Linked DNA regions of Homo sapiens: region 1 is reported to be linked to region 2. The links are microRNA targets in miRTarBase. Many come from high-throughput screens and were not tested one by one. Region 2 holds a microRNA gene; the other region holds the end of a gene's coding sequence.

What was found. Region 2 holds the annotated microRNA hsa-miR-561-3p (CAAAGUUUAAGAUCCUUGAAGU, at 2,438-2,459, opposite strand). A microRNA usually pairs through its seed, bases 2 to 8, with sites in the 3' UTR of a target mRNA and lowers its output. Matches are read on the target gene's strand: a 7mer-m8 pairs with bases 2 to 8, a 7mer-A1 pairs with bases 2 to 7 and ends in A, and an 8mer does both.
Region 1: the mRNA of CNOT6L is a reported target of hsa-miR-561-3p. Seed matches in the 3' UTR shown: 7mer-m8 at 2,304-2,310 and 7mer-m8 at 1,377-1,383.

The regions. Positions count from the first base shown.
Region 1 is chr4:77,716,699-77,721,202 of GRCh38, forward strand. CNOT6L (CCR4-NOT transcription complex subunit 6 like) reads right to left here. Exons shown (of 12, transcript NM_144571.3): 12 at 1-3,945. The coding sequence ends at 3,733. Among named protein-coding and RNA genes, the nearest start is that of CNOT6L, 100 kb to the right of the region's middle.
Region 2 is chr2:188,295,507-188,300,010 of GRCh38, reverse strand. MIR561 (microRNA 561) reads right to left here and starts at 2,519; the gene lies at 2,423-2,519. All of the region lies in intron 1 of GULP1 (GULP PTB domain containing engulfment adaptor 1), which reads right to left. RefSeq lists enhancers at 775-1,069, 200-1,399.

The DNA.
Region 1 (4,504 bases), not on the chromosome of region 2:
TTCTCTGTGATTTAATATATAACTTTAAGACACCAAAAAAATAGGGGCAAATAAGAAACAGCTTTTATATTTTTGCCAACTACACTAAAACACAGTGGCTTCTTTAATACATTCACACAGGATGCTAATTAGTAAAATTAAATACCTGCCTATGAATATCAGAAAAGTAATTTGAAAAGAAAGAGCTTGGAACAAGGCAAATGGGAGGGGAGGAAAAGCTGGTCTCAGAACCCATTGTGCCATACCTGACTTCAACATGTGATATTCAAACGAATGTTCACACGCCTTACATCAAAGAAATGAAACAAAAATATTCAGCTATGTTATTATACAAAATTTTTTTTACATAAAACATCATAAATCTGGAACAGATTTACTATATCTGAATTCTAAAAAGTTGCCTATAGAATGGTGCTGGGATTCTGTTCTCTGCTTGCTTTTAGGCAGTGCTGTTGCTTAAAAGTTGACACCAGGCACAATATTTTAAAACAAAATCAACGAGCAAGGAGCAGTAGGTGGATCTGAGCCTTTCCCAGATGTCAGGCCTGAGGATGCTGCAATATTCCCCATCAAAATGTGTAAAGCTATGAGGTGGATACTGATGCCTGAGAGAGTGGGTGACTTGACATGCACTTGTATGACTGTAATAATGGCAAACAGTACAGTTTTCTCTTCCTCAAACAATACTGTTTTAGTAAATTTTAAGAACATTCCGGTTCTTAGACAAATATCGAAATAATATTTAACAGTTTTAAAAAAACATGTATCACATTCTAAAAATGCCCAGATTTTCTTTTATCTTCTGATTAAAATATGCAGCAGCCCAATGGCATAAAGCTTAACTCATTCTGATAACTAGAAAGTATATGAGCATATATATTTTACTTTCATTGAATATATATATATATATGTCATTCACCTCTTCCTTTTGGCTTCTCACTGCCAAAGTTCCAAATGGCATGCGGTTTAACAAGACAATGCTGAGGAAAGCAGCATTTCTGATCATCTGAATTGGCAGCTCAAAACAGATACCACTCCTTTTACAAAGGGAACAAAGGGTGAAGGGTATGTGAAATTTGGGCAGTGGGCTAAAGGGAAACCGTGCACATGAAATTTGGGTTACCATGCCCCAAGTGTGTACCACCCAAAACATAACACAATTACCTACTTCAACAGAGCTACTACCAACATTTACTAAAACCACATTAAAAATACACAGGATAATGAATGGTTTGAAAGAGCGCATTTGAAGCAGAGAGAACCCAATTACACACCTTCCTGCAACAGAGTGCCTCGATCATACACAAAATAAACTTAAGCTGTTTACAATGTTTCCCATTTTTTTTTATTTTTTCCCTCTACATTTAACTATTAAAAAAGTTTTTTATTAATAAATGGGCTCCTCTGTGGTTCATATACAATCATAAGTGAACTTTAAATTCCATTTTATACAAACATCTCAAAAAATATTGGGAGTGAAGTATGGTAGGAAATATTGCTCACATTGCTAATTAACATGCGTATATGAAAGGAGGAAAATGTTTTGTTAGTGCATATACCTCCAGAGCAGAAAACCCACCCAAAACAAAAGATCTAAAATAAAACATACAGTAGCTGATTACAAAAAAAGGTAATGTCCACAAAATTAAGTTTTTCATGCTATTCTACTTTCCAGTACTATGCTTCAGGTAATCAATTTGCATGGCTAGATGTTGGATACTTGAGGTATATAAGAAGGGAAACCTGCATGTTGAGGAAAATCTGTCATCTTAAGGGTTGTTTCTTTTTGTTTGTTTATCCTGGTACTTTAACATTTTTAAAAGATATTTTATTTACATCAAAATTCACTGAACTACAATGACATTCCAATTATAATAGATGACAAACAACGCCTCTATCACTAGGCACTTTTAAAAGGGAGTTCAGGCTTTACAGAACCCTTCTGATGCAATCCCATGTATGATATGACATCATCCCACCACCCTCGTCCCACTAAAATTACCCTCTGGGGAAATATTACCTTATATAGCCTGATTAATTTACTATGGAAGAAATTAGCATAAAATGACCAAAGTAAATGCATCATTTAAGACTAATAAAACAGCCGAAGATGTCAGGTTTGAAAGAGGAGACAAATTGTGTATATTTAAAACTAATTAAATAATTTAAATTTGACCTATACTTTATATATTAGTGAGACACAAATATAGGCTATTGTCTTTTAAAATTTCATTCACATAATGGAAAATTTCTTGTTTATTAAAAATATCACATTTTGAGACTAGAAACAGTAAAGTGCATGAAAAGTTTAAAATATAAATTTCAGAAAACTCTTATAGCAGCAAAAAAGCAGAATAAAGAAAAACTTAAAAACACAGACACAACCTTTTCCTGTTACTGTGCCATAATTAACATCAAGTAGCCAACCAATTTTTCCCCAGAAAACAGTATTCTGTTCACTGCCTCTTGAGTCACAGATTTTCAACTGGCCCCTCCTAGGCAAAAAAAAGATTCCAACATACCTAAAGGCATCAACAATTGGGAATAAACCAGTAGCTTCTTAATTCAACCCTGACAGACAACTGAAACAAAGATTAAAAGCATATGATGGCCATTTGGCAGCTAGAGTCAGGAAAATGACCCAACGTTTTCAACTACTGCCCCAAATTTGTTCTCTCTCCCAAATCCTTTGCACTGTCATCTCAAGAAACCAACAGCCACATAATCTATGTTGGAAACACATAAAATATCTGTATGATTTTCCCCATCTGAAACTTTGATCAAGGCCTTTTTATTCAGCAGACTTTTTTCTTCTTTTAACATTTGACTATAATGGCAAAAATGACATAGGTCATATAACATCTGTTTTCCTGGCACAACCAGACAGAAGGTTGAATTGGAATAAGGAAAAATTCATTCCGTGGGCATCCTAAACATACCACATTCTATTTTCAAGGTATGTGGCAATACAGATTACTTACTTTTTCTCTATAAATAAACTTGAGAGACAGGCTTAGAATTAATACTTCCAATAAGGTTATATATAAAGGACAAAAAAACCAAAGTGATTCCTCAAAAAAACTCCAAACCAGCATTTGGCCAACAAATTGTCATGTGGTGTTACATGCTGGATTATAAAAGTATACTGTGCAACCATCTTTAATTTTTCAAATTTTCTTACCATGTATAGAGGCTATATCATAGTTTATGGACTGAACAAGTAAATTTAAGTACTCTGTTAATGTGCAAATGACTTTGGAATCCAAAAGTCAGTTATAAAGGAAAAATTCAAGGTTTTCCCTGGAAGGCATATCATCATTCAGTTTAAAATACTGTATTTATAGTTTTTAAAAATTGCCTTTTATAAAATGGTTGGCTCACTGAAACCATTCAAAAGAAAGTATTTGTTTTGGAAAAACAAATACACTGTTATTGGGCCTCAAATTGGTAATTTATCAATTTTGAATGCTGGCTGTTAATACAATATAAAGAAGGTCCAATTTAAAAACATGTTAAATTAAAATTTTGTAAAGAGAGTAATACTTTGGTTCCAGCCCTACTGCCAAATGATACCAATATGCACAAAAATGTACAAAGTCTTACAGCAAACACATAATGAAAGAAACCTGAAGAAGCAGCTTAAGGATGGCCATACTTCACTCCTACATACTTTGATTTACAACTGTACAGGTCCATAGCAACAGATCCCCGTCTTGGCGGGGCAGTACTCCACTACCTCCGATTAGGCAAGTGAACACCATTGACAAGAGGCAGGAGTGGAGGGTGGAGTTCAAGTTGTGTTAACAGTGAGAAGTGGTCTGAAGGGATGTGAGGGTGTGGACACCCAGTGATGTTGTTCTCAACCAGCCATTGAGGATCTAAAGGCCCCAGGACACCAAGCACGTTCATATGAGTCTTGGAATAGAAAATGTAGTCAATCACGCCCTGGAAAGAGATTGGGAATAGGAAAAAAAGAAAAATTCAAGATATATAAAGAACAATCCATAATTTATAAAAACCAAAAAACTGACTACCCTTTCTTCTGGTACCTGTTGTCTTGATAGTGGGTCAAATAAGGCTCAAATATTCAATGGGTATTACATGAAATAAAGGTGGCTCAATAGGGAAACACAGCATGCTATTGGAATTATAAATCCTTCCATTTGTGTGTAAGTGATAATTTGAGAAGCTAAACACATTAAATTATGTCTAGTCATCTTTAGAATTGGCCTGCTTGGTTTAGTGAAATCCAACATATCAGTATAAATATAATGGAGCCTGTACTAATCCTATTGGCTATAATAAGTAGAAAATAAGAATATTTATATGAGCACATACATAGTTAACGGTATTATTTTCAATTATTTGCATATCAAGATATCCAAACACACCTGACTGAAGCTATAGTAAACCATGTTTATGGATTTGCTAATCCTAGTCTAGCTTTCCCAGATTTGCTACATACATACAAAACACTACACAGTTAACTATTCTATTCTTAATT
Region 2 (4,504 bases):
TCCTTTATGTAATTACTAATGGTTAGTTCATGAACATGGAAACATAAAGGAGGAACATCTCTATAACTGTAAAATCCACAAGTTGTTCTCCTAAACCACATTCATGGCTTCATGCCTTCTTGCCTATCCCACCTGCTCTGACTGACACTGTCCCTTTTCAATGCCTGCCCAACTCATCCTCATCCTCTGTGACTTGGTCTAAGAATCACCTGCACACATTCTTTCCATACACTGCTTCCCTTCACACTGGTGAATACCCGCTTTCCCCACTCCTCCTTCCTCAACATCCTCTGCACTGTACCTCAGAATTATATAGAAATACCAACTTCTATTTAAGTTAATAAGAGGAGGTCTCTGTCACCTACTAATCACACAACTACAAAAAGAACAAGTGTTATTTGATAAGTATTTATTAAATTCAACTGTATCATATCAGAATCTCTTTATTTGCAGATGCACAGTTTAAACACAGTTATATTTCCCAGAATGAGAAGGGGGGAAAGACTTCAAATGTATATTAAGTGAATGGAAAATCACTGAATAAAGACAAAATCTCATTGAATAAGAAAGTCCCAAAGAAAGATTCATTACATTGTAGGATACAGTAAATTCCTCTTCAAAGAACCAATATGTTAGTATATTGAGCTTCCCTGTTCTTTGTTTTCCATTTGAAAGTTTAACTTCCTCGTTCTTTACATCTCCTTGTCCCTAGCTTTAGTAAACAACCCCCTCCTAGCCTCTATCACCTGCTCTGTCCTTAGTCATCCTTAGTCACCTGCTCCCTCCTTAGTCACCTGCTCTGTCCTTAGTCATCCTTAGTCACCTGCTCCCTCCTTAGTCACCTGCTCTGTCCTTAGTCATCCTTGGTCACCTGCTCTGTAACCGTCCTTCCCACCAAAGCTTCTCACCCCGCCACTCCAGCTCATACCCCTGCTGTCTTTAAAATAGCCAGTTGGAATTATCTTAGACTGTGCGGTCCAACCCTACCCAATAGGGGAAAAACAAGCAGTAGGGACTAGCTGCATTAATAGTAAGATCCCCTTCTCCTCCCTTGTCTGGTGTGCTCTTGCCATTGCTCCATCCGTGAGAGGCACCCTTTTATAGAAGTAAATTGCCTTGCTGAGCAAACTTTTGCCTGAGTGCTATATTCACTTGGCAGCACCGAGCATTTACTTCCAACAACATCAAGTCTAAAATGTTGTTCTCTAAAACCTCATCTGTACTACTCTAGAAAATTTTATTTTTCCAAATTGATCATGAATTTCCTAGTCTGCTTAATGTAATCAGCTAAACCTATGATAACTCAGATTTTACAAATTTAGTAGTTCTTCCTTTAAAATGACTAAAGACATTAGCAATATGAGACCTCTTACTGATTTACTGCTAAGAAGCTTAAAGGTTTTTCTCCTACATATCCAGTCATGGTGATGCATTAAAACAGAAAAAATAATTCATAAAAATTTAAAGCAATAGCCATTGTTACTCTAAAACAATGCTATTTTATAAATCTAAAATACCAATAGACTTTTGCCATTTCATATTGCATTTACGTAATTTCAAATAAAATTTGTTTACTCAAATGTGACTCCTTAAAAATTCTCTCAAACTATATTCTGAGATACTACAATCCATAAACACCCTCTAATTATATTTAATTAACATATTCAGCATAGAGATAAATTGCTTTGAAATTAATTCAGTTATGCAATTGTTCTTTCTAATCAGCCAAACTTTCTCTGTATTTATTTGCACTACTAGTAAAGTTCAGTGTTTATGTTATTGGACATCTTTATGACTATAATAACACACATCATCAAGGAAGTAAAAGGAGAGTTTGATCATCAACCAAAGTCCTTTATTACTACACAGTTCCTCAAAGCAGACAAAAATAAAATAAATTACAGAGCATAACATGTAGTTTGACCTTCAAAGATACTTTACAAAATACTGTTTCTTAAAACTCTCATTAGTACTTATAACCCTATGTTTTAATTCACCTAGGTTGAAATCTGGGTAAATGAACCTATTTGCTATTAAAATTTTACTTAAAACATGGTATCTCTTGATGGTTATAAATGGCTATGAAAAAAATTGAGAAGCTAAAATCACATTTATTCTCTTATTTCAATTTTTTATCCCAAATTTGCACGTTTGCTACCATACTACAAATGTTCTGTTTGATTTTTTTTGGCTAAAATTATATTTAAAATTGATATTATCTAATTTAAATACAAACCAAATGAGAACAATAGTTATCACCTCATGAAATATTATACAGCTATAAACAGGCAAATCATTAATGATTCAGTCAGTAGATTATGTATGCTCTGAAATGATTGTCTTTATTTCTATAAGAGGGTAGACTGAAGACTGAGCCCACAGTATTCAGTCTCCTCTCTTATAGAAATAAGGATAGCCATCCATGGTTCCCCCAGGAACTTCAAGGATCTTAAACTTTGCCTTTGTAGCTCTGGCAAAGTTTAAGATCCTTGATGTTCCTGGAGGACTGGTGGATGAAGTTTCAAGAAATGGATCAACTGTAACACCTAATATTAAGAAAAAGCTGTACCATACCAGGAAAACACTACATTTGTATAAAATTCTCACTTCACAATACCTGATAAACTTATCAGTAGTATCTAACTTCTAAGTAGTGAATTTACCTTCTTACAGTAGTTAACTGTACATGTGCTTGTGTTCTACTTAAGAAGAGTAGAAAGGGCTTCCATGAGTATGCCATCATTAGAGCCTACAACAAAGAATGTAGGTAGAAGATCTTGCCAACTATTTTTCTCTTCTTTCGGAGGTATAAATAGAAGTCTAAAAACACTTTTAGAATTTGGAAAAAAGAAAAAAAAAAGGATTTCTAGGATTTCTAGCAATACTTATCTGGGAAACATTTTTAATTAGTTGTTAAAATTGGGCTCAAAAATATCAATTAACTGAAGCTATTTTTCCCTACAGAAAAACTATAGCACAAATAGAGAAACATCAAAGAATATATATGTATCATAAGTATGCACACACAGAAAGGGAGAAAGAAATGGAGACAGAGAGAGAGACAGACAAAGAGAGAGAGAACGACAGAGACAGAGAGACAGAGAGAAAGTAGTCCCCCAAAATATGGAAGTTTCTAAGGTCTATTCTGAACTTCTTCATCAGGAGGTATATGATACAGCTGATGTATAGGTACATTTATATAATGTTAATAGCAAAAAACAAACATGAAATAAAGGCAGGTATTGATATCTAGATGCACTCTCTTAGTTGCATCCTAGAAAATACATACAAGGCTATTCAAAACTTCCTTTAAAAAGCCATATTAATCTTTGCAATTTAGCACAAAATATACTGAAAATCTTAATTTCTATATAAGTTAACTTACTTATTCATATTATGTGTGCAAATTAGGGCAGCCTTTTCAAAACTATTTTTAAGTATACTACACTGAAAGACAAAACTAATTTCAAATTCGCCATAACTATACCATTTCAATGTAAACAGAAAATTGACACTTACTATCCCACACAATATTTGAGTCAATTAACTGTCCTCTGATGACAATCATGCATGGTAAGCATCATTAGAGTGGCTGAAAACATTTCTTAGGCATAAAACAAACAAAAAACTCGCAAATAACAAGGGCCTGAAAACAGTATAAGCATTGTTTTCTAAGTCTTACTCTGGAACAATGACTTTTAGCCATTCTCTTTAAAAATAAAGGCCTGATTTCAATTTCATATCCCCAGTATTTGAAAGTGAAGCGATTTCTCCATTCAAAGTTATACCATTTTTTCCTCTTCCAATCTGAGTATATTTTATGCTCTTATGGGAAAAAGCTTAAGTTTCCTGATCTCTAAATGCATTAAGGCAAACAATATTAGATCCACCAGCCTCTAATACGTTTAGGGACCAGGGCTCATGGCAGTTATGCAGTTAGCTTCTGTAACTATCTTTGAATTCATTATTATACTGAAATAAAATAACTTTTTTTATTCTTTAGAGGTTTTAGAAAACAAATTGCAATATCGCGAATTGAATCACAAATACATCACTCTGCTAAGTAAAATTTAAATTAAAATCACCTACCATTCATCAATGGAAATAAGAATTTTAAGGATTTCTAATTTAAAATGAAAGGTAAAATTTGACATTTTATATTAAAATTACCCTAATATATCCTCAAACAGCCACTTGTTCAAGGATACCCATAGTGTAAGTTTCAACCCAACTACTATATCCCATATACACGTGCTTTTTACAGATTCACTATTAATTATAATATAAAGTCTAAAAATAAAAGCTATGACTAGGTATTTTAGCAAAAGACTTTATCCTTTAAACAATTTATCTATACTTATTCTGTTTTCTCTAATAAGTTGATCTGTTCACCCGAAAAAGAGTTAAGTTAAACATCCATGACTGTAGCACAGTACAATGAACCATAAAAATATGTAGTATATTTTACTAATTGACATGTCACACTAAAAAGTAAATATTTCAC